Linked DNA regions of Homo sapiens. Changing the gene in region 3 together with the main gene of any one other region gives a genetic interaction. Each region holds a gene or a part of one and is shown on either strand. Other genes may lie near its edges. The genes, in order: TNFRSF12A, MAGOH, CDH1, HNRNPA3, ARMH1, ITGB7 and TMEM79.

Region 1 (4,000 bases), about 66 Mb from region 3:
GGGGACATAATGGAGCTCTGAGTGCTGGTGGACAGTGCCCCTCCCACCTTCCTTCTTCCCCACAACAGAAGAGACCAGCGACTCCCGCAAAGGGACAAGGTTCCTCCCTCTCCTGCAGAGTAGGCATCTGGGCACCAAGACCTTCCCTCAACAGAGGACACTGAGCCCAACGGAGTTCTGGGATGGGAGGGGTGGGAGCATGGGAAGGGAGGCATCCCACCCCCAAGAAGAACTGAATAAAGATTGCTGAGCAAAGGAAGGCTTCAGTCTGGAACCTGGGGCTTTTGGGGATGGTGGAGAGGGCAGAGGCGCGGGATGCTGGGGTTTCTCCTCAAGATCTTCCCTGGAAAACTGTTAGGGCCAGCCAGGTCCTTGCCGGCTGAGTTCCAGGCATTGAGAATGTGTGAGTCAGAGCCTCACCCCCGCCCCCGCGGCTGGCTGACTCACTCCCTCCCTCCAGCTCAGGGGAGTCAGTCGGGGATCACTGCCTCTCCAAACCATTTAAAGTTAAAGATTCTTTTATTAATAAATTCTCCCTCCCCTCCAAACTCTCCCCAAAATAAATATCTCCTCCCCGCTTTGGGGAGTTGGGGGGGTCTGTATCTTAGGGCCAGCCCTCCTAGTGGGCCAGCCCCCTAGTGTTAAAAATAGGTCCCTAACCCCCCAGGGTGACCCCCGTGGTGGAATTTCAGGACATCTGAGTGAGTGGGGCCTAGTGTCAAGTCTGCCCCCCAAGTCAGCCTGGCCCCCAGGGCCTCTAGGAAGGAGGGCACCCCCCTCCCCTGTGCAAATGCTGCAGTTCCTTAGTCAGTGTCAGCTGTTTTGTGTGAGCCAGCGTGAGGCTCCCTTTCTGTTCTGGAGCCAGAGGCAGGGCAACCAGACACCTTGGAAGGTTCCCCTGAACCCTGGGCCCAGGCCTCAGAGGTGATTCACCGCCCCCCACCCCCCTTGTGGTTGGAGGAGCTTGGCTCCCGCCGCGTCTGGGAGGCAGAGACTGGCTCTAGAATGGATGAATGAATGATGAGTGGGCGAGCCCCGGCTGGCAGGGGGCACATTGTCACTGGATCAGCGCCACAGCTGGGCAGCCCTCTCCGCCGGTCTCCTCTATGGGGGCTGCAAGATAAGAGGTGGGGTCGTCAGCAGCAGAGAAAAGGTCGAGTGCTGACAGGGCTGGGCAGGCCAGGGCACACTTACTGGTGAACTTCTCTCTCCTGCGGCATCGTCTCCAGACCAAAAAGCCAGAAAGCAGCCCCAGCACGAAGGTCAGGCTCAGAGCGCCCCCAAGGATGGGCCAAAGCAGCCGGAAGGGGGCAGGAGGTGCTGCAGCGCCTGGGGGCGGGACTCGGAGTCAGACCTCGCCCCTCTCCAGGCCAGCCCCGCCCCCTAAGACTGAGCCTTCTGCCTTCTCCCAAACGTGGCCTCCTCCCTGACCGGAGCCCCCTCCCAGCTCCCACCTCCTCCCGAATGATTTCCCAGATGCAAAGCTCTCGGCCCCGCTCTGCGCACCAGCCACCCTCCCTCCCAGTCTGGGGTCCGCTGGCCACTGGCCCTGCCCCCCACTCACAGCCCAGGCAGAAGTCGCTGTGCGGTCGCGCCCTGCAAGACGCGCAGTCCATGCACTTGTCCAGGTCCGCGCTCCAGGAGCTGCCGCGGGAGCAGGGGGCGGTGCCTGGGGAGGGGGCCTCGGGTCAGAGGCTGGGGGCGGGACTCGGCTATTCTGGGGTCTGAGGTCAGGGTCGGCCGGCTCGAATAACGTGAGTCACCGGCGCCCTCCCCGCGCATTCCTCACAGGTGACCGCACGGCCCGACCGGGACACGGCAGCTCCGGGAGGGAGGGCGTAGCGCGGGACGCTGGGGGTGGGGGGGGTCAGGTCCCCACAACCCCCCTGCCGCCGGCGGGTGACTCACTCCTGGGCACCGGGCCCGACCCCAGTCCCTCCCCCCGCATAGCTGGGCACTGAAGTCACCGGATGGAAGGGGGCACCCCACATGGTATAGAGGGCACAGACCCTAGTGCCTCTCGACGGCCTCCCCAACTCGTCGATCACTGGGGCTAGTTAGACCCTGTACGGACCAGGCTGGGGGCGTGCCCCTTCCTAGACTAAACATCCCGCCCTCACTCACTTTCTCTCTCCATTCGAAGTACTTCGGACTTGTGGAACTGAAGACCCCCCCCAACCCCAATTGGACGGTGGGAGAAACTGAGGCCCGGATTGTGAATGAAGCTTGGAGAGTGATGGAACTTCCCACAGCCGGGAGCGAGCTGTTTGAAGGCCACCTGACCCCAGATCCCCACATCCGCCTGTTCCCCCAGTTCGGCGCTGTTCTCCAGACACCCAGTCCGGCTCCCGAGCCCCGGCCCGGGGTTCCCCGACCCCGGAGTCCCGCGTACCTGGCGCTTGCTCCCCGGCCACGGAGCGCAGCAACGCCAGCCAGAGCCCCAGCACGAGGAGCCGCAGCAACCGGCGCAGCGAGCCCCGAGCCATAGTGCACGTCCTGCGCCCGCCGCTGTCTGCGCCCGCCGCCGGCCGGCAGGGACCCACGGCCGCCGCCCCGCCCCCGCCCCCGCCTTCCGGGGCGGAGCTCTCGCCTCCGCCCGCCTTGAGGTCCGCTTCGGGACGCCCCGCCCCGCGGCGCCCGCTCAGTTCAGTCATTCATTCAACAAAGTCCTGGCGCGGGAGCTGCCAGGACCCCGCAGGGACGCAGACCCCCTTCCTTGCCCAGCCGGTGATCTAGTCCAGCGTGCGTGGTGTGGGGAAATCAAAAATTAGACACGAGTGCTCGCTTCGGCAGCACATATAGAAATCAGACACGAACGGCCGGACGCGGTGGCTCACGCCTTTAATCCCATCAGTTTGGGAGTCTGAGGCAGGCGGATTACGAGGTCAGGAGTTCGAGAGCAGCCTGACCAACGTGGTGAAACGCCGTCTCTACTCGAAATACAAAAATTAGCCGGGCGTGGTGGCGCGCGCCTGCAATCCGAGCTACTCAGGAGGCTGAGGCAGGAGAATCTCTTGAACCCGGGAGGCAGAAGTTGCAGTGAGCCGAGATCGCGCCACTACACTCCAGCCTGGGCGACAGAGTGAGAGTCCGTCTCAAATAAATAAATAAATAAATAAATAAATAAATAAACAAACAAACAAACAATAAAAAGAAATCAGACACACGACCAATCCATGCAGAGATCACTGCAGCTTCCTTCCCCCCACCTCCCCTTGAGATTGCGTCTCACTCTTGCTCAGCCTGGAGTGCAGTGGTACGATCACGGCTCTCTGGGCTCAGGTGAGCCTCCCACCTCAGCCTCCCAAGTAGCTGGGACCACAGGCCCTGCCCCACCACGTCCGGCTAATTTTTGTATTTTTTGTAGAGACCAGGGTCTTACTATGTTGCCCAGGTTAGCCTGGCCACTACAGCTTTGTTAAGGGCCCGGGGGGTATAACAATTAAACCTGAGGTCAGGAGCTCGAGACCAGCCTGGCCAACTTGGTGAACCCCCGTCTTTACTAAAAATAAAAAAAAGAAAGAAGTTAGCCGGGCGTGGTAGTGGGCGCCTGTAATCTCAGCTACTCGGGAGACTGAGGCAGGAGAATTTCTGGAACCTGGGAGACGGAGGTTGCAGTCAGTCGAGATAGCGCCATTGCACTCCAGACTGGGCGACAGAGAGGGCCTCCATCTCAAAAAACAAAACAGGCCGGGCGCGGTGGCTCACGCCTGTAATCCCAGCACATTGGGAGGCCGAGGCGGGCAGATCACGAGGTCAGGAAATCGAGGCCATCCTGGCTAACACGGTGAAACCCCGTCTCTACTAAAAATACAAAAAAATTAGTCGGGGGTGGTGGCGGGCACCTGTAGTAGTCCCAGCTACTCTGGAGGCTGAGGCAGGTGAATGGCGTGAACCCGGAAGGCAGAGCTTGCAGTGAGCCAAGATCGCGCCACCACACTCCAGCCTTGGCGAGAGAGCGAGACTCCATCTCAAAAACAAACAACAACAACAACAAAAA
Region 2 (3,500 bases), on a different chromosome or scaffold from region 3:
GCCAGTCTCAACAGTCACACTGAGAAAGCTATTCAGACTCGGTGACTCTACAGTTTATCATGAGCACTTTTTTGGCATATTCCATTTTTTCTTCTGGCTGCTCCTATGCATTAATCTATATGTGTGTGTCAACAAGAAGCTCGCAGTAGCAATGGCTGAATGAAACACCAAAAGTAATAGGAGCAAGTCCTCAAAAATAATTTGGGGTTCCTCCCTAACAAGAAGGACAAAGCTGCCCACCTGCATTTTGCATTTGCCCCAGCTCTTCCCATAATGGTCCCAATTTGGTTAAGGTTTCTTATCAATCTGCTCCAAAACAGACACAACTGGATATAAGGATCATGCACACTTACTTGGATTGATTGACATCAATAAGGGAACCAATTTTTGATGTTGTAAAAGAAATGTGTTCATCTCCAATGACGATTTCAAGCTCCTAGAAACATTTTAGAAAATCGAAGTCAAGTAGAATTGGATTATTCATCAAGCACACAGAAGGATTAATCATTTGCCAAATCACACAAACTTGACTACAGATGGCCACAAAAACAAGGGCAGTTCACTCTGAGCACTAAACTGTGCTGGGCACTAGAAACAAGAGATAAATACAGCTCATATTTAGAAGAAGTTGTACCCTTAAGGCCCTACCATTTCTCAGATTTGGAAAAATCTATGTAGGTTTTTTTTTTTTTTTTCCTGAGACAGAGTCTCACTCTGTTGCCCAGGCTGGAGTGCACTGGCATGATCTCGGCTCACTGCAACCTCCGCCTCCCAGGTTCAAGCGATTCTCCTGCCTCAGCTTCCTGAGTGGCTGGGACTACAGGTGCCCGCCACCACGCCCGGCTAATTTTTTTTGTATTTTTAGTAGAGACGGGGTTTCACCGTGTTAGCCAGGATGGATTTTTTTGTATTTTTAATAGAGACAGGGTTTCGCCATGTTGGCCAGGCTGGTCTCGAACTCCTGACCTCAGGTGATCCGCCTGCCTCAGCCTCTCAAGTGCTGGGATTATAGGTATAAGCCACTGCGCCCAGCCTATGTAGTATTTTGTATGAGTTTTCATTGTCAACAATGTGGAGTAACATGAATACACCTATGTTTTAAAAATACCAAACAATTGGACTGGGTGTGGTGACTCATACCTGTAATCCCAGCAGTTTGGGAGGCCAATGCAGGAGAATCACTTGAGCCCAGGAGTTTAAGACCTGTCTGGGCAACTTGGCTAAACCTCATCTGTACAAAAAATACGAAAACTAGCTGGGTGTGGTGGTGTGCATCCGTGGTCCCAGCTACTAGAGAGGCTGAGGTGGGAGGATTCCTTCACCCCAGGAGGTCAAGGCTGCAGTGAGCCATGATCTCATCACTGTACTCCAGCTTGGGCAACAGAGTGAGACCCTGTCTCCAACAACAACAAACAAAAACAAAAACCAAAGAATCTAATCTATCTAGGCAACTTCCAGACCTTAGGTTTGATCCCCACTTTGTCACTCCCTACATGTATGATGTTGGATCTCAATTTCCAAACAGTGACATGAGTACCATAACCTTCAAAAAGTATCTATGTGTAGCCTACTGGGTGCTGGCTATTGTTCTCAGTGCTTTGGACAGATAAGTAAAACCAAGCAAACCAAAGATCTCTGCCCTGTGGAATTCATATTCTTGTGAGGCCTATTTACTTTTTCTTCTTTTTGATTCATATATCCTTTTTGTTATAATTCAATCAGAAAATCGAAAAAACTGAGATGTTTCCAATACTCAGATTTATAAATTATTGCCATACTTGTGTCAGATTTTTTTTAAAAAAGAAGTAAAATATTACAAAGTTTATGTCCATCTCCCATTCTGTTCTCCCTCCTGTATCCCGATTTGTTCCACTCTTGTTTCAGATTTGGTAGTATGTTTTTACTTATTTCTTTTTAGATACAGGATCTCACTCTGTCACTGAAGCTGAAGTATAGTAGTAGGATCATAGCTCACTGTAACCCTGAGCTCCTGGGCTCATGCTATACTGCACCTTTAGCTTCTCGAATAGCTAGGACTACAGGTATGCGCCACCACGCCCAGTTAATTTTTAGGGTTTTTTTTTTTTTCTTTGTAGAAAAAAAGGTCTCACTGTGCTCAGGCTGGTCTTGAGCTCCTGGCCTCAAGTCATCCTCCCACCTTGGCCTCCCAATTAAGAACAAAAGTGCTGGGAATGCAGGCATGAGTCACTGCACCTGGCCTAGACGTGGTAGTGTGCTTTAAAATTTTTACAAAATGGTCTTATTATACATACTTTTTACATTTTTCATTCCACATTGTTTTCGAGATTTATCAATGTTGAGTTACACAGATCTAGCTCATTAGTTTTAAATGCTTGTGGTATTCCATTTCCCTACTGAAATAAACTTAAGTTTTAAATTTTTATTCCTATAAACAATGTAGCAAGAATATTCTTCTATACATCTCCTTGTACATGTGAATATGTCTCCATATAATTCCTAGTATTTTAAATGCTGCCAGATGCCACAAAATTACTCCCTAACGCGGTTATACTAATTTTATTCTCACTCTTTTCTCATATCATTTTTTAAATTCGGCAGATTTTTTTCTGTTTTTATTCTAATGGGTCTGAAATGGTATCTCACTGTTGTCCTTTCATTTTACAAATGAAGCCGTAAATCTTTTCATATTAGCCACTTGTTTGATCTTGTAAGTTATCTATTCATAACCTTTGCACATTCTGCCACGGGACAGTCTTTTTATTAATTTGTAATTCTTTATATATTCTGGATGGAGAACTCTTGCCAGTTTTATGTTTTGCAGATAACTTCTTCCAGTCTATGGCTTATCTTTCAACTTTATCTTGCCATCTTTTGTCAAACCTAAGTTGTAAAGAAGTCAAATTTACCAATCTTACCCCTTAAGGAGTTTTAAAAACTCCTTCTCTACCCAGAAATAATACAAGTCTATATTCTGTTTAAAATTTTTGATTTCTATGGCCTAATTTTAAAAATATTCCATAAATACATTGTCAGCTGTCCTGGTACAATTTGTTAAATAATTCGTTCTTTTCCCATTAATGTGAAAGTCCACCTCTGTAGCACACTTTTCTAAGTTTCCATATATTCATAGGTTGGTTTCTGGGCTCTCTATTCTGTTCCATTGGTTTAGCTGTCAATTCCCGAGGCAATATCATACTACAAATGACCACAGCTTTGTAAGAAATTTCCAGTATTATTTTGGCTACTCTTGCCTCTGATTTTCCATGAATTTAATGCTCATTCTATTTGATTCTAAAGGGAAAAAAATCCTACTGCGATTTTTATTTGAATTAAGAGTGAATTTATAAATTACTTTGTTGAAAACTGACATCTTTATGATACTGAATCTTGCCATCCACAAAAACGATACATATTTTTGTCCTTCTATAAAGCCCTTTCAAGTTTTGTACATCTTGTTAAATGCATTCCCAAGTTCTTTATAACTCTTCTTGCAATTATTAATGGAATTGATTTTAATT
Region 3 (3,500 bases):
CCTGGCTAATTTTTGTATTTTTAGCAGAGACTCAAACTCCTGACCTCGTGATCTGCCTGCCTCAGCGTCCCTAAGTGCTGGGATTACAGGCGTGAGCCACCACACACAGCACAGTTTCTTGATTTCTTACATGAGCAGGAAGAGCCACTGCAAATCCCACATGGTCCACTACAATCTGGGAAAGTCACCCTGTCCCCCTGCCAAAGCGAATCTACTTCTAAGAAGATACCAGGGGACAAGGGTATGAACAGCTGTGAGGATGCCAGTTTCTGCATCTTGCCAGGTACCATACAAACCTTTGCTGTTTTCAAAATGCCATCGTTGTTCACTGGATTTGTGGTGACGACAAATTGTCCACCATCATCATTCAATATGGTGTATACAGCCTCCCACGCTGGGGTATTGGGGGCATCAGCATCAGTCACTTTCAGTGTGGTGATTACGACGTTAGCCTCGTTCTCAGGCACCTGACCCTTGTACTGCAGAGCAAAGAGATGTGTCATTTACAAAGTACCAAGACTGCTAGCAGAGCTGAGTCTCAGGGGGCTAAAGGATTCCTCTTTTTTTGTTGTTCTTTTGAGATAAGATCTCACTGTCACCAGGCTGGAGTGTATTTGAGCGATCATGGCTCACTGTAGCCTCAACCTCCTGGGCTCAAGCAATCCTCCCACCTCAGCCTCCAGAGTAGCTGGGACCACAGGCATGCACCACCACACCTGGCTAACTGAAAGCAAGCTTCAAGGAGAAGATGTGACAAGGAGAGGCCAGGCAATGGGCGCACTGGGGTGCAATGGTACAATCTCGGCTCACTGCAGCCTCCGCCTCCTGGGTTCAAGCAACTCTCATGCCTCAGATGCCCGAGTAGCTGGGATTACAAGCATGCACCACCACGCCCAGCTAATTTTTGTATTTTTAGTGGAGATGGAGTTTCGCCACGTTGGCCAGGCTGGTCTCAAACTCCATCCTCAAGGGATCCACCAGCCTTGGCCTCTCAACTTGCTAGATTACAGGTGTGAGCCACCACGCCTGGCCATTATACAGGATGATTTAAACTTACCCTACTTGGTTCTCAATACCTTCTCCTTGAATGCATGTAATATCCTTGGCATACAATAATTCTCATAAGATGTCTTCCTGGCTATACCAGAAACACCATGAGAATGGAATCTTTGTGTGTGATGGTCTCTCCAGTGTCTAACACAGTGCCTAATATAAACTTAGAAAATATTTGTTCAATAAAGAAATGAAACCAGGTAATATTTGCTATAAAAATGTACCATGAGACTATGAAATCAGTAGGTGCTTTTTGCAACTTCACAATCTTGCACCAATTGGCCCCAGGCCAAGGGTGGAAAAAAGATACTAAAAGACAACTGCCATCTCAAGATGCTTGCTTTTAAGTTTAAAGTTAACATTCTCTAGTCTGGAGAGAGTTTTCAAAGACTTCGCCCATGAGCAGTGGTGACACTTAGTTCATGAACAACAAAAGACCTTTCTTTGGAAACCCTCTAAGGAGTTATAGAATTACCGTGGTGGGATTGAAGATCGGAGGATTATCGTTGGTGTCAGTGACTGTGATCACAGCTGTTGCTGTTGTGCTTAACCCCTCACCTTGAAGGTCAGCAGCTTGAACCACCAGGGTATACGTAGGGAAACTCTGCAGAGAGATCGACACAACCAAGTCAGGACCAGGAACACTAGCCACCTTTGGCCTAGCCCAGCCCAACACATGGAACCAGAATATTTAACCATGTGCTTCATGCCAGCCTGCCTGTCTTCTAGGCACGGAACCTCTGGGCACAAGCTTAGATGCAAAGCTTAGACCATCACTGTATTAACTGACAACTGGCCTAGCAGGATTTTGCTTTGTCCACGGGATTGAGCTAATACACATTTGTCCTCCACACCCTCTGGATCCTCCTGACCCCTGACCTCTCGGTCCAGCCCAGTGGTGACCACACTGATGACTCCTGTGTTCCTGTTAATGGTGAACATATTTTTGTCAGGGAGCTCAGGATCTTGGCTGAGGATGGTGTAAGCGATGGCGGCATTGTAGGTGTTCACATCATCGTCCGCGTCTGTGGCTGTGACCTCCATCACAGAGGTTCCTGGAAGAGTTCAAGGAGATGAAGGTTTAGACAAGCTGCACTTTGGGACTGGGTCAATACTGCTTAATCCAATTCTGCCCTGAGGGATAAAGGAGGGGACATGGGGGTGGTACCGTGTCAGAGTTCCCTAATTCCTAGAATTCTTACCAAAGTGCTAGGGGAGAAAGAAAGCTCAAACTATCAACTTATTATCCAGGTATAAATACACAAATGGTAATAAAGAAAAGAAAGGGAATGATTACCACAAAAGTCAGGGTGTGGTTATCTTTTTTTTTTTTTTTTTTTTTGAGACGGAGTTTTGCTCCTGTTGCCCAGGCTGGAATGCAATGGCGTGATTCGGCTCACCACAATCTCTGTCTCCCGGGTTCAAGCAATTCTCCTGCTTCAGCCTCCCAAGTATCTGGAATTATAGGCATGCGTCGCCACGCCCAGCTAATTTTCTATTTTTAGTAGAGACAGGGTTTCTCCATGTTGGTCAGGCTGGTCTCAAACTCCTGACCTCAAGTGATTTGCCCACCTTGGCCTCCCAAAGTGCTGGGGTTACAGGTGTGAACCACCACACCCAGCCTAGGGTGTGGTTATCTTTATGGAGGAGAGAAAAGAATGTGACCAAGGGGGATTGTTTAGGGCTTTAAGGTACTGGTAAAGATCTGTTCCTTAATTAGGAAGGTTGTTCTTAGCCAGGTATAGTAGCTCATGCCTATAATCTTAGCAGCTTGTGGGGCTGAGGTGGGAGGATTGCTTGGGCCCGGGAGTTTGAAAGTAGCCTGGACAACAAAGCAAGACCCTGTCTCTGAAAAAAAAATTTTTTTTTTTTTGAGACGGAGTCTGGATCTGTCACCCAGGCTGGAGTGCAGTGGCGTGATCTCAGCTTACTGCAACCCCCGCCTCCCGGGTTCAAGCAATTCTCCTGCCTCAGCCTCCCAAGTAGCTGGGATTACAGGCCCCCGCCACCACGACCGGCTAATTTTTTTGTATTTTTAATAGAGACGAGGTTTCACCATGTTGGTCAGGCTGGTCTTGAACTCCTGAGCACAGGTGACCCATCCACCTTGGCCTCCCAAAGTGCTGGGATTACAGGCATGAGCCACCATGCCCAGCCTAAAAAAAAAAAAAATTAATAATAAAAAAGGGAAGATTGTTCTTAAACTCTCCCTATTTTATATGTTTCCACAGGTAGACTGTTACACACATGCATATAACACAACAATGGCTTGCCAAGAAGTTCTGTCCGTAGGAAGGATCAGCTTTAGTTACACAACCTTTGGGCTTGGACAACACTTTGGGGTCCAAAGAACCTAAGAGTCTTTCTGAGTATTCAGATTCTCATTAGTGGATATACCTGGAAGAGCACCTTCCATGACAGACCCCTTAAAGACCTCCTGGGTGAAT
Region 4 (3,500 bases), on a different chromosome or scaffold from region 3:
CCTTCTGCTACCATATCCACCACTTCCACCACCAGATCCATAACCACCTGAAAATATACATAGTATTTTAAAAGAAGTATGCACATTTTTTAAATTAAAAAGGCTCTAAAGAATTGATTTAAGAAAGTACTTACCACCATAGGGACTGCCCGAGCTTCTTCCACCAAAACTGCCCCCTTTCATGGGTCCATAATTTGATTGCTGTTGTCCACTATAATTTCCAAAATCATTATAGTTCCCACCACCACCATAGTTACCTGAAATCAGAAAGGTTTTATGTGTGGTTTACCTACACAATCATCATTTTCCCCTTTTAACGTATGTAACTATTATCTTTTGAGAATTATGGTAGCATGCTTATACACATCACTGTGGTAGCACCACTTGGGGTAACTGATGTCAGGATATTAAAAGACCATCAACATTTTGTTTATATTAAATGCTGTCCTCTAGGCGCATGTTCTCTCTACCATTAACACCATTAAAATTGCCAGTGTTCCATTCACTATGATTCTGAAGCAGTATAACATTTAAAACAATGAGAAGGCATTCTAACTTGTTAAAACTTCCACTCATCTGTCATTGACATGTTAATTAGGTCCAATAAAACAGTGCATTCCTAAGAAAGCTTTTAACAGTATTGTGGCTTAATGACCTACATACACTAGCTTGCTTAAACGCTTCAACTACCTGTGACATATTATATTAAGACCCAAAGTACTTTGTTAACCTGGGCCCTAGATGGCAACCTGCTCACTTCAACACGTCTGGAGTATTCAAACAATTTATTCCCGGTTGTCCAGTTTAAAAGTACCAAGGAGTTAAGTAAAATTTTGGCAATAAATAAACTCCCAATCTTTTACACGTAAAACATGTACTGAATACTGGTAAATGTCCATTTTTTACTACTCAACTAAAAATTCAGTACATTTGGCTGAGTGCAGTGGCTCATGCCTGTAATCCCAGTACTTTGGGAGGCAGAAGCGGGCAGATCACAAGGTCAGGAGATCGAGACCATCCTGGCTAACATGGTGAAACCCCATCTCTACTAAAAATGCAAAAAAATTAACCGGGCGTGCTGGCATACGCCTGTAGTCCCAGCTACTAGGGAGGCTGAGGCAGGAGAATCGCATGAACCCGGGAGGCGGAGATTGCAATGAGCTGAGATCACGCCACTGCACTCCAGCCTGGGCAACAGAGCAAGACTCCATCTCAAAAAAAAAAAAAAAAAAAAAAAAAAAGAAAAAAGAGAGCTGAGTACATTTGTACATTTTACTAAATAACCAGCAAAGTCAAGAAAATTTGGTTTGAACTACCAACCATTTTAGTATTTTTCTTATAGAACATAAAATTTGATCAAACGCTTTTAACACTTTCCAAATATGTGTCATGGGAACTGTTAGCAACACTGAATATTTAACATTTAAATAAAACAAGTGAATGCTTACCACCGCCAAAATTTCCTCCTTCATTGTAACCATCATATCCTCCACCTCCACCATATCCACCACCTTGGTTTCCATATCCTGGTCCACCACCACCATAGCCCCCTCTACTACTATAACCAGGACCACCGCCATAGTTGCCACCTAAAAAAACAACAAATAACAAGACCACACAAAAACTTAAGTGTATAGTCACGTTATTCAATTCTGGTGTGTGTGTAAGAGACTGGGTCTTGCTCTGTTGCCCGGGCTCAAGTACAGTGGTGCAACCACAGCAATGCAGCCTTGAACTCCTGGGCTCAAGCCATTCTCCCACCTCAGTCTCCTGAGTAGCTAGACTATGGGCATGTGCCACCATGTTCCCCTATTTTATTTTTCTAGATATACGGTCTCCTTATGTTGCTCAGACTAGTCTCAAAATCCTCACCTCAAGCAACCCCTCTGCCTCAGCCTCCTGAATAGCTAGAATTACTCAACTCTGGTTTTATATTACATTTAAGCCACTGGCAAATAAGCCAATGAATTGATTTAGCACTCTGAAGCCTGGTAATACCTAATAATAATAGAGTATCAAGTATCTGCACTAGTAAGAATGAAAAATAAATGTGTAACCCATCTTCTGATAGTAAAAAAGAAAATCAGTTTTCATTTTACAAAATTTCACTAAGAAAAATATAGTCTCAGACTTAATAGAACAATTCTAGCTCAACCCCTACTACTTGCTGAAAAAGAGCAGCTAATGTCTCTCCAGGGGAAAAAGGGTTCCTGTTCTTCCATGTACAGTTTGGAAATACACCTTAACCATTTAGCCACTGAAGTTTTAACTAAAATTAGAAAAGTGTAATAAATAATTTTCAATAAGTAAAGAAAGTTAAAATATCAAACATCAATGAAAATAAGCCACCTACCATCACCTCCAAATCCATTATATCCACCATCACCTCCTCCATAACTACCTCTGCTGCCACCACCTCCACCACCATAGCCTCCTGAGGAAAAACAAGAAATGAATTAAAATAATATATTCAACTTACCAAAATGTCAGGTATCCATGTACTTAGAAGATAAACAGCCTACCTCTTCCACCAAAGTTTCCACCACGGCCAAAATTACCTCCACCACCTCCAAAGTTCCCTCCGCGACCCATAAAATTGCCAGATCCACCTCCACGACCTTTAATACAGGCAAGGGAGATTTTTAAGAACCTTACAAACACCACTCATATCCACTGTATACATGTGTATGGTCCTACTCACCTCTCTGTGATCCAGCAGACTGCATCTCTTGTTTAGAAAGGGCCTTTTTCACTTCACAATTATGCCCATTAATAGTGTGGTATTTCTGAACTAAATTTTTTTTCAATCAAACAAAACAAAAAGTTATTTTATGTTTGGAAAAGCACATATATGAGATACCCTCTGTCATTATGTAACCCATTAAGACATAATCAGGTAGTGACTCTGGTAATGAAGGAGCATTCTGAGATGTTTATGTTTATTTCTTGATCTGGATACTGATTACACAGGCAGACACTATGAAAATTGACTATACACTATAAATGCCATTACACGCAACAGAAAATTACAATTTAGCAAATTTAGTTCAAAACAGAAAAACCAGTTCTACTTTCTCATTCAAGTTACCATAAATTGCTACTTACCAACAATTTTATCAACTGTATCATGATCATCAAAAGTTACAAAAGCAAATCCTCTCTTTTTTCCACTCTGCCTGTCTTCCATAACTTCTATGGTTTCAATCTTGCCATACTTTTCAAAGTAGTCTCTCAAATTATATTCTTCTGTATCTTCTTTAATACCACCAACAAAAATTTTCTTCACTGTTAGATGGGCACCAGGCTTTACAGAATCCTACAAATAAAGTAATATATTAAGTCAAGAAACAAACTTTCACAACAATTTCACATATTACACAATGTATTATTAAAATACCTCTCTAGAAACAGCTCTCTTTGGTTCCACTACACGCCCATCAACCTTGTGTGGTCGAGCACACATTGCTGCATCCACCTCTTCAACACAAGAATAAGTCACA
Region 5 (3,189 bases), on a different chromosome or scaffold from region 3:
TATTTTTAGTAGAGATGGGGTTTCACCATCTTGGCCAGGCTGGTCTTGAACTTCTGACCTCGTGATCCACGCGCCTCGGCCTCCCAAAGTGCTGGGATAGCAGGCATGAGCCACTGGGCCCGGTGGGCCCAGCCAGTAAATGCTAGTATTTTTGTTTGTTTGTTTTTTTGAGACGGAGTTTCACTGTCATCACTCAGGCTGGAGTGCAATCGCTCACTGCAACCTCTGCCTCCCGGGTTCAAGCGATACTCCTGCCTCAGCCTCCTGGGAAGCTGGGATTACAGGCGTCTGCCACCACGCCCGGCTGATTTTTGTATTTAGTAGAGACAGGGTTTCACCATGTTGGCAAGGCTGGTCTTGAACTCCTGACCTCAGGCCTCCCAAAGTGCTCAGGCCTCCCAAAGTGCTCCCAAAGTGACCGAGAACTCCTGCCTCGGCCTCCCAAAGTGCTGGGATTACAGGCATGAGCCACCACGCCTGGACTTTTTTTTAAATTTAAATTTTATTTTTTTTCTGAGACAAGGTCTTACTCTGTCGTCCAGGCTGGTCTTGAACTCCTGGGCTCAAGCGATCCTCCTACCTCTGCCTCCTTAAGTGCAGGGATTACAGGTGTGAGTCACTGTGCACCGGGCACTGCTACTCTGAACACATGTGGCTACATGGAAGACAGGACTTGGCCATGTGCTCTCCCCAGCTCAGTAGTCAAGTGCCTCTCTCCATTTACTGGTAAGAGAGAGAGGGTTTAGAGGAACTCTTGTTCCGGCGCTCAGCTCATTTGCATCCCAGAATGCATTGTAGATACGAGAATTATTACCAGGGTTATCTGTTTGAATAATAATATTTAAACTTTTTTTCTTTGTCAGGAGATTTTACCCAGTGAGAACATGTTTAGGACACTTTTCTACAGTGGAAGAAAAGCTTCTGTCTGCAGGTCCAAAGGCACCGTAAGTAGAGGGAGACCAGTCAATAGCTGGGAAGCCAGGCAAAAGGCTAACAGGCAGATCTCTGGTTTCTCTTCATAACGAATAAATCTTTCGCCTTTTACTAAAGATTTCCGTGGAGAAAAACAACTATGAGTTTATGGTTAAATTTTTTGAAGTCTTGCCTAGGCAAGGCTGAATGTTCTGTTACTAAAGAGAGACGTGTGGGTGGGGTGTTTCATGCTTTGGGAGGTTGGGGTAGCTCCACAAATGTCACCCAGGTTGTAGCGGAGTGGTGTGGTCGCGGCTCACTACAACCTCCATCTCCCATGCTCAAGCAATCCTCCCACCTCAGCCTCATAAGCCTGTCTAATTTTGTGTACTTTTTGTAGTGCCCGGCCTACTGTCATGTTTTTTTAGCTTCTTGTAAACATTTAGGAAGCTAAATGTTTATAAGATTTTTTTTTTTAAAAGAAAACCTAGTTTTTGACAGTCTGTATCTAATAATTTGGCTGAAGTCTTGTGAGTCTTTCTAGTGTGCTAGTTCCAATTTATAGTGATGACTTTGTGTGCATGATTATCTTATACTTTGGACTGGTCTCATATTTGAAAAATTAAGTGTAGGAAAAACTTAAGAGTTAGGATGATGATACTTTCTTCCAGAGATAGTTTTCTTTTGTTTTTATCAGGTACCTGGGGACACAAACAATTCTGGACTACCTTTGTCCACATTCAACACTTGAGGTTCTCTGGACCACCTGGTAGTTATATAATCCATACAAGACCACCTGAGGGCCGGCTTACTTTTGGCCCACCTTGACCTTGAGGGTACTGTCTTCTGGGGTCCAACTTAAAGTATGTATGCTAGAGGTATCAGACTTCCCACCGAGAGCAGAATCTCAGTGCCTTCTCTTTCTTTTGCCCTTTTTTTGTTTTGTTTTGTTTTGAGATGGAGTTTCACTCTGTCACCCAGGCTGGAGTACAGTGGTACGATCTCGGCTCACTGCAGCTTCCACCTCCTGGGTTCAAGGGATTCTCCTGCCTCAGCCTCCCGAGTAGCTGGGATTACAGGTGCGCACCACCACGCCTGGCTAATTTTTGTATTTTTTAGTAGAGACAGGGTTTCACTATGTTGGCCAGGCTGGTCTTGAACTCCTGACCTCAAGTGATCCACCTGCCTTGGCCTCCGAAAGTGCTGGGATTACAGGTGTGAGCCACCACGCCCGGCCTGAGAAGTCTTCTTTATCTGGCTATTGCTACTCATTCTTCTAGGCTCAGCTGAGAAATCAACTTTCAGGAAGCTGCCCCTGGCCTGCTCTCCTCTGCCTTCACTCTTCACTCAGGAGTAGATGTCCTATGTCTCTGAACCCGTAGCACCGTATAGAATTCTTGCTATAGAATTCTAGTACTATCCACTAAATGGTCTCCTCACTAGTGTGTGAACTCCAATGAACATATCTGACACATCTCACTTCTGTTTACCTAGAGCCTGAAACCATTCCATGTACACAATGCATGCTCCATACATCTTGTTGAAAAGACCTCATTGGATTCTGCATTCCAACAGGCGAGGCTTGGGTCATGGCAGCCTAGGACCACGCTTAGAAACCACCAGCCTGGTGGTGGATGACCCCAGAGGAGGCTCTGCAGTGGCCACTGTGGTCCTCATTCACACAGCTACAGAACTTTCCTAGCTTGAATCTTGGACAGGCTGGAGAGCCAGAACTGTGGCAGCTGTCTCCCCGTATACCCCATGGCCAACTTTTTTTTTTTTTTTTTTTTTTTGAGACAGAGTTTTGCTCTTGTTGCCCAGGCTGGAGTGCAATGGCACGATCTTGGCTCACTGCAACCTCTGCCTCATGGATTCAAGCAATTCTCCTGCCTCAGCCTCCCAAGTAGCTAGGATTATAGGCGCCCGCCACCACACCTGCCTAATTTTTTTGTATTTTTAGTAGAGACGGGGTTTCACCATGTTGGCCAGGCTGGTCTCTAACTCCTGTCCTCAGGTGATCCACCCACCTTGGCCTCCCAAAGTGTTGGGATTACAGGCGTGAGCCACTGCACCTGGCCCCATGGCCAACTTTGAGAGTGCTTTGAAGCCAGGACCTTATACTTCTTGGCCACCCCAGAACTGGGCACCACTCTATGGATGCTCATATCATACAACCCAGGCACAACAGAAAGGGGAAGAGTGTGGTCCTTCTCACAGTGGGAGACACAGGGCACCTGGTGAGATGGTCAGAGATGTGGACTGCGTGGATTTACAGAG
Region 6 (3,500 bases), on a different chromosome or scaffold from region 3:
CAGTCTCTCCAGACGCTGGGTCTCAGGCCTGTAAAACGGATAGTCTCTTGAGTCCTCTCCAGCTCTGACCTAGAAGATGGGTGTCTAGGGAGAGATGCAGGAACGAACCTGTGGCCTGGCTAGGCCTGTCAACAACTGGGAGGGCAAGTTGGGGCCCTTGTGAGTCCAGGATGTTGGCAGAGGCTAGGGCAGTGGTTGAATAGGCAAGGGCTAACAGGGCGGGAGGCAGCGCTCGGCTCACCAATGCGCACAGAATGGGTGACTTCCTGCAGCCGGACCAGCAGAGCGTGCCCGAGCTGGCGCACGCGTTCCAGGTCGTCCTTCATGGAGTAGCTCAGGTCCATAAGGTAGTACAGGTCCACCGGGTATCCCTCAGCACGAAGGAAGCGGACCTGGAGCTGCTGGGGCTCCCCTAGGGGGTGGGCGGCGGGCGGGTCAGCAGAGCGCATTGGAACGCCAGCCTAGACCTCTGGCCTGGCCCCGCCTCCCCTAACTCACCAGGCCGCAGCGTGACCCGGACCCGCTGCGGCGCCAGCTGGGTGGCACCCTCTCCGCGGGCGCCCTGGCTGAGCGGCTGGTCCTGCAGCACCTCCTGCTGGCCGCGGGGCTCCTCCAGCTCCTCCAGCGGGCAGCCTCGAGCCAGCAGCTCCTCTCGTCGGGCGCAGCGCCGCGCCTCCGCCTCTCCCGACGCGGTGAAGTTCTGCTCAGCAAGAAAAGGCGCGTCGGGACCCGGTCCTGCATAGGCCCTGGGCCCCGCTCCCAAAAACACCCTGCAAACCCGGCCACCTCTAATGCCCCCACCTCCAGTCCACTCCTTGAGTCCCTGATTCCCTCCCCTCTTCCTCGCCACAGCTACCCTTGAACTCCGGTCTTTTTTGTTGTTTTGTTTTGTTTTTGAGACGGAGTCTCACTCTGTCACCCAGGCTGGAGTGCTGCGGTGCTATCTCCGCTCACTGCAACCTCCACCTCCCGGGTTCAAGTGATTCTCGTACCTCAGCCTCCCGGTAGCTGGGACTACAGGCATGTGCCACCACGCCCAGGTTTTTTGTATTTTTAGTAGAGACGGGATTTCCCCATATAGGTCAGGCTGGTCTCAAACTTTTGACCTCAAGTGCGCCCACCTCAGCCTCCCAAAGTGCTGGGATTACAGACGTGAACCACCACGCCTTTTTTTTTTTTCCTACTGTAAAGACAGGGTCTTGCTTTTTTGCCCAGTCTTGTTTCGAACTCCTGGCCCCAAGAAATCCTCCTGCCCCAGCCTCCCAAAGTACTGGGATTACAGGCATGAACCGCCACCGGTGGAACTCTGGTCCTTTCTTCCTTGTCAGAGCCCCACTTCCTATAGCAGTCCCCCACCCCTCCCCTATCTCAACTCCCCCTTGCCCCAGCCACCTACCCCTCTCCTCCCCAATAGAGTCACAGACTTCCTGTTGAGATCTTAGAGACTTCACTACCACAAAAAAACAGGGGCCTTGCCTCCTAGGCCAACCTCCCCAGCAAGCTCACACCAAAATGGGAAGGTGGTCAGACTAAGACCCACAGCTCCTTGGAAAGGAAAGGATAAGAACAGAAGAGGAGGCGTCCTCCCCACCAATATGTCTGGTATCCCTGGGACTGGTTGGGAAGCCACAGGGGAAGGAAATGGTTAGAGCGGCTTCTCAGCTGGCCCTAGGTGTCAGGAGACTGGAGAAGCCAGACACAGACCTGACCATCTCAAGAGCGCCAGCTCCCCAGCTCCAGCCTGGCACCTCTGCCTCTCTGCCTTGTGCAGACTCAGTATCTACCCTTCTTGTCCAGTCAGATTCACTGTGTGCCTTTCTCCTGGGTCCCTGTGTGCCTTTCTCCTGGGTCCTCTAAGCATCTGTAGCTCTGCTTCCATGTGAATTTGCCCCCATCTCTTATCTGGGCTCCCACACTGATCTAACCCTCCATCTTACACTGAGAGAGGCAGACCTGCCCCCATCCCAGCTTGGGCACCCCTCCTGCTCTGCTGCTCCATGAGTTCTGTCTCTTTAAAGCATAAACAAACAACAGCTTTGTTTGAAGAGCCAGGGAGACACCTGCTCCCTAGCATCCTTCTTGGCCACTTAGGTAGCTCAAGCCTTTCCAGTCCCCCTCAAGCCCATATGCTTCCACCCCTTCCCTTTCTACCTGTCCAGTCATAGGCTACTACACACCCAGGAACAGAATGCCTCCACCCAAAACACAGACTTAGAAATCTAACCACACACTTGCTGCTATGGACTGAACTCTGCACCCCTACCCCTCCCCACCCCCACCCCATCCTCTGTTGAAGCCCTAACCCTCCATGTGATGGTATTTGGAGATGGAGCCTTTGGGAGGTACCTAGGCTTAGATGAGGGCCTAAGGGTGGAACCCTCATGATGGAATTAGTGCGCTTACAAGAAGAGAGGCAGTTCCCACCCCCATCCCCCAACCCCATCCCCACTATGTGAGGACACAGCGAGAAGGTAGCCAGTCTGCAAGCAAGGAAGAGGGCCCTAACTGAGGAACCAAATCAGCCAGCACTTTGATCTTGGACTTCCCAGCTTCCAACATTAGGAGAAATGAATTCCTGTTGCTTAAACCACCCAGCTTATGGTATTTTGTTATGGCAGCCCGCACTGGGTAGTACCTTTCTCCCATGTTTACATACACAACAGCTCCCTCTACCTATACACAAGCATGAATTCCCACAAGCACATACTTTCTCCCAATTCATGGTCACAAATTCTCTCCATATATACACAAGCAAATGGATACAGACATAATCCTAAGTGCACAAGAAACTTGCATGCATGTGTATGCACACACGTATATCCACACACAGGAGTCCTATGTGCACAAACTCAGTCACACATGAGACTGTGGAGTGTTCCCAGAAAATCATACATGTGCCCACACAATCACACACATATATCCAGGCTGCACATACATATACACATACACATACACATACACATGGTTCAAAGACCATAGGCCCATCTTTACCAGTTGCTTGCACCATGCACAGCTGGGGTGTGAGAGGATGCACTTCTGGCAGGAGGGGGCTGGCTGGCAGGACCCCAGCATGGACAGGTGAGGATTCCGCCATTCTGTGGCATCCCCTGTGGATGGGATCTTGGCGTCCAATTCACTCTCACCTCTGCTCAGGACCAGCAGCAAAACAAGGACCATTGGCAAAGCCACCATGCCCTGTAATAGGATATAAAGGGGGACATGTGGGTCCTCAGGGAGGACTCTCAAACTCTCAGTCCTCTAAACTTAGCTTGTGGTTATCACTCTCAAAACTCTGCCCCAACACTTTATCTCCCCTCATAGTTTCACTTCCCCTGTGGATTCAGCAGTTTCTTCAAAATAATGGGAAGGAGCAGGTATCACGCAAAGGTAGGGGCCTCCGGACGTGGTGGCTCATGCCTGTTATCTCAGCACTTTAGGAAGCCAAGGTGGGTGGATCACCTGAGCTCAGGAATTCGAAACCAGCCTAGTCAACATGGCGA
Region 7 (2,809 bases), on a different chromosome or scaffold from region 3:
GATCATTTTATATCAATATAAAAATGGTTTTCTCATTCTTTTATAGCTGCAGTGTGTTCCATTGTATTTATCCTCTTGCAGATGAAGAAACTAAGATTCCAAGGGTTAAGTAAGACTGGTCCAAGATCACACATCTGGGAAATAGCAAAGCCATGATATGAACCCAAACCTGTTCATTACCTTCCCTTCTGCCAATTTGAGGGGCAGAGGTAAAGAGGAGAGCAAAGAAGCCACCTCTAGGAGGGCTTGAAGCCCAGAGGATGGGTCAGCCACAGATTTCGTGGAAGATATGTTCAATACACACCCCTCAATGGAGGGAGGGGAGAGCAACTTCCTCTTAATATATGAAGGATCACTTCTTAATATATGAAGGACCACTTATTACATGATTCATGTGCCTCTATTCTTTTTTACCTGTGAAAGGGAGGGAAGAGTAACTGCTGCTTCTCTTCTGCACTAGGAAGCAGCATAGTATAATGAACCAAGTACCAGATTGTTTTTTTGTTGTTCTTGTTATTTTTTGAGACAGAGTCTCGCTCTGTCGCCCAGGCTGGAGTGCAGTGGCCCAATCTCGGCTCACTGCAAGCTCCGCCTCCCAGGTTCACGCCATTCTCCTGCCTCAGCCTCCTGAGTAGCTGGGACTACAGGTACCCACCACCATGCCCGGCTAATTTTTTATTTTTATTTTTAGTAGAGACGTGGTTTCACCGTGTTAGCCAGGATGGTCTCGATCTCCTGACCTGGTGATCCACCCGCCTTGGCCTCCCAAAGTGCTGGGATTACAGGCGCCCATCACCACACCCGGCTAATTTTTTGTATTTTTATTAGAGATGGGGTTTTACCGTGTTAGCCAGGATGGTCTCGATCTCCTGACCTCATGATCCACCTGCCTTGGCCTCCCAAAGTGCTGGGATTACAGGTGTGAGCCACCACGCCTGGCACCAAGTACTAGATTGTTTTAAGTACTCTACATGAATTAACTCATTTAATCCTCATAACGACCTCATTTTACAGATGATGAAACTGAGGCACAAACTGCTTAATGAACTTGTCCATGGTAAAGAAGAAAGGACCCTGGATAAGAGAGGAAAAGGACCTGGATTCTAGTCCTGCCACTATTGCCGACTGACCTGAGCAACTCTCTTCCCCTAATCTGTTGTGATTTTCCCTTTGTAAAATGGGAAGCCTGGACCAGACAATCACTGAGTCTTCCTTTAGCTCCCTGATGATTTTTACTGCTTAAGCCAACTTCTATCTGAAACCAGTATTCCCCAGGAGTTTAAGATGGCAGGCTAAGTTACATGAGCAGGAACATATTTATTTTGGGAAAACCTATTGGGAGAAAATGCAAGGCTGCATGATGGTCAGGAGGCTGGTGGGACAACTGACTGCTGGACCACAATCAGAAGTGACAGGAAGACTAATTTTAGCTCAATAGGAAGAATATTTTATTTTAGCGAGCTACCTGGAATCCTGTATCAAAAGTAACAAGAGCAGGCCAGGTGTGGTGGCTCACGCCTGTAATCCCAGCACTTTGGGTGGCCAAGATGGGTGGATTATCTGAGGTCAGAAGTTCGAGACCAGCCTGGCCAACATGTTGAAACCCTGTCTCTACTAAAAATACAAAAAAAATTAGCTGGGCATGGTGGCTCACACCTGTAATCTCAGCTACTCGGGGGGCTGAGGCAGGAAAACTGCTTGAGCCTGGAGACAGAAGTTGTAGTGAGCCAAGATTGCGCCACTGCACTCCAGCCTGGGTAACAGAGTAAGACACCATCTCAAAAAAAAAAAAAGAAAAAAAAAGTAACAAGAGCATATGTATTAGGGAAAATGGAAAGAAAAGACCTGCATTTGGGTTAAGAAATTCAAAGGTGCCTTCTAGATTAACAGTAGTTCATGTGAAAATACCCCTAAGGATTTTTTTTTTTTTTTTTTTGAGACGGAGTCTCACTCTTTCACCCAGGCCAGACTGCAGTGGCGCTATCTCGGCTCCCGGGTTCACGCCATTCTCCTGCCTCAGCCTCCCGAGTAGTTGGGACTGTAGGCGCTCGCCACCGCACCCGGCTAATTTTTTTGTATTTTTAATAGAGACGGGGTTTCACCGTGTTAGCCAGGATGGTCTCAATCTCCTGACCTCATGATCTGCCCGCCTCCGCCTCCCAAAGTACCCCTAAGGATTTTAGGTGATGGCAAAGTCTGAATGAAAGGAGAGTAAGGGCCAGGCGCAGTGGCTCACGCCTGTAATCCCAGTACTTTGGGAGGCTGAGGCGGGCAGATCACCTGAGGTTAGGGGTTCAAGAACTGCCTGGCCAACATGGTGAAACCCTATCTCTACTAAAAATACAAAAAGTTAGCTGGGCCTGGTGGTGGGCGCCTGTAATCCCAGCTACGCGGGAGGCTGAGGCAGGAGAATCGCTTGAACCCAGTAGGTGGAGATTGTAGTGAGCTGAGATCCTGCCATTGTACTCTCCAGCCTGGGCAACAAGAGTGAAACACTGTCTCAAAAAAAAAAAAAAAAAAAAAAAAAGTGGAGAGTAAGAAGGCTGCGAGGAGAGCTCACACATCCTTGGTTTGTATGAAGAAAAGGACAGTACCCTCTACCAGGGCCATCCCCTCATTGACAAACAGGAAGAGAAGGACAGTACCCTCAACCAGGCCCCCCAACCTTGAGACCTCATCTCTATATTTTTTTAATTTTAATTATTTATTTATTTGTTTGAGACGGAGTCTCACTCTGTCACCCAGGCTGGAGTGCAATGGCGCGATCTTGGCTCACTGCAACCTCCGCCTCCCAGGTTCAAGCGATTCT

What was found.
Region 1: changes in CDH1 (region 3) and TNFRSF12A together harm fitness more than expected from each alone (negative genetic interaction), as found in Homo sapiens cells (one large-scale study listed by BioGRID).
Region 2: changes in CDH1 (region 3) and MAGOH together harm fitness more than expected from each alone (negative genetic interaction), as found in Homo sapiens cells (one large-scale study listed by BioGRID).
Region 4: changes in CDH1 (region 3) and HNRNPA3 together harm fitness more than expected from each alone (negative genetic interaction), as found in Homo sapiens cells (one large-scale study listed by BioGRID).
Region 5: changes in CDH1 (region 3) and ARMH1 together harm fitness more than expected from each alone (negative genetic interaction), as found in Homo sapiens cells (one large-scale study listed by BioGRID).
Region 6: changes in CDH1 (region 3) and ITGB7 together harm fitness more than expected from each alone (negative genetic interaction), as found in Homo sapiens cells (one large-scale study listed by BioGRID).
Region 7: changes in CDH1 (region 3) and TMEM79 together harm fitness more than expected from each alone (negative genetic interaction), as found in Homo sapiens cells (one large-scale study listed by BioGRID).

The regions. Positions count from the first base shown.
Region 1 is NC_000016.10:3,018,884-3,022,883, reverse strand, and holds TNFRSF12A (tumor necrosis factor receptor superfamily member 12A precursor), read right to left. Parts: upstream 2,517-4,000; 5' UTR 2,487-2,516; coding exon 2,393-2,486; intron 1,670-2,392; coding exon 1,565-1,669; intron 1,330-1,564; coding exon 1,195-1,329; intron 1,114-1,194; coding exon 1,058-1,113; 3' UTR 501-1,057; downstream 1-500. Other genes in the region: HCFC1R1 (host cell factor C1 regulator 1), read left to right, coding at 1-21. UniProt on the Homo sapiens protein: Receptor for TNFSF12/TWEAK. Weak inducer of apoptosis in some cell types. Promotes angiogenesis and the proliferation of endothelial cells. May modulate cellular adhesion to matrix proteins.
Region 2 is NC_000001.11:53,228,519-53,232,018, forward strand, and holds part of MAGOH (protein mago nashi homolog), read right to left. Parts: intron 437-3,500; coding exon 354-436; intron 1-353. UniProt on the Homo sapiens protein: Required for pre-mRNA splicing as component of the spliceosome. Plays a redundant role with MAGOHB as core component of the exon junction complex (EJC) and in the nonsense-mediated decay (NMD) pathway.
Region 3 is NC_000016.10:68,810,292-68,813,791, reverse strand, and holds part of CDH1 (cadherin-1 isoform 1 preproprotein), read right to left. Parts: coding exon 3,451-3,500; intron 2,109-3,450; coding exon 1,933-2,108; intron 1,658-1,932; coding exon 1,529-1,657; intron 480-1,528; coding exon 297-479; exon of another isoform or gene 230-296; intron 1-229.
Region 4 is NC_000002.12:177,215,794-177,219,293, reverse strand, and holds part of HNRNPA3 (heterogeneous nuclear ribonucleoprotein A3), read right to left. Parts: coding exon 3,398-3,500; intron 3,317-3,397; coding exon 3,106-3,316; intron 2,792-3,105; coding exon 2,702-2,791; intron 2,619-2,701; coding exon 2,523-2,618; intron 2,435-2,522; coding exon 2,354-2,434; intron 1,590-2,353; coding exon 1,449-1,589; intron 258-1,448; coding exon 135-257; intron 48-134; coding exon 1-47. UniProt on the Homo sapiens protein: Plays a role in cytoplasmic trafficking of RNA. Binds to the cis-acting response element, A2RE. May be involved in pre-mRNA splicing.
Region 5 is NC_000001.11:44,719,714-44,722,902, reverse strand, and holds part of ARMH1 (armadillo-like helical domain containing protein 1), read right to left. Parts: exon of another isoform or gene 2,105-3,189; intron 1,119-2,104; exon of another isoform or gene 1,001-1,118; intron 945-1,000; exon of another isoform or gene 724-944; coding exon of another isoform or gene 656-723; exon of another isoform or gene 484-655; intron 1-483.
Region 6 is NC_000012.12:53,197,252-53,200,751, forward strand, and holds part of ITGB7 (integrin beta-7 isoform a precursor), read right to left. Parts: intron 3,203-3,500; exon of another isoform or gene 3,196-3,202; 5' UTR 3,193-3,195; coding exon 2,992-3,192; intron 701-2,991; coding exon 499-700; intron 413-498; coding exon 242-412; intron 1-241. UniProt on the Homo sapiens protein: Integrin ITGA4/ITGB7 (alpha-4/beta-7) (Peyer patches-specific homing receptor LPAM-1) is an adhesion molecule that mediates lymphocyte migration and homing to gut-associated lymphoid tissue (GALT).
Region 7 is NC_000001.11:156,287,325-156,290,133, reverse strand, and holds part of TMEM79 (transmembrane protein 79), read right to left. Parts: intron 1-2,809.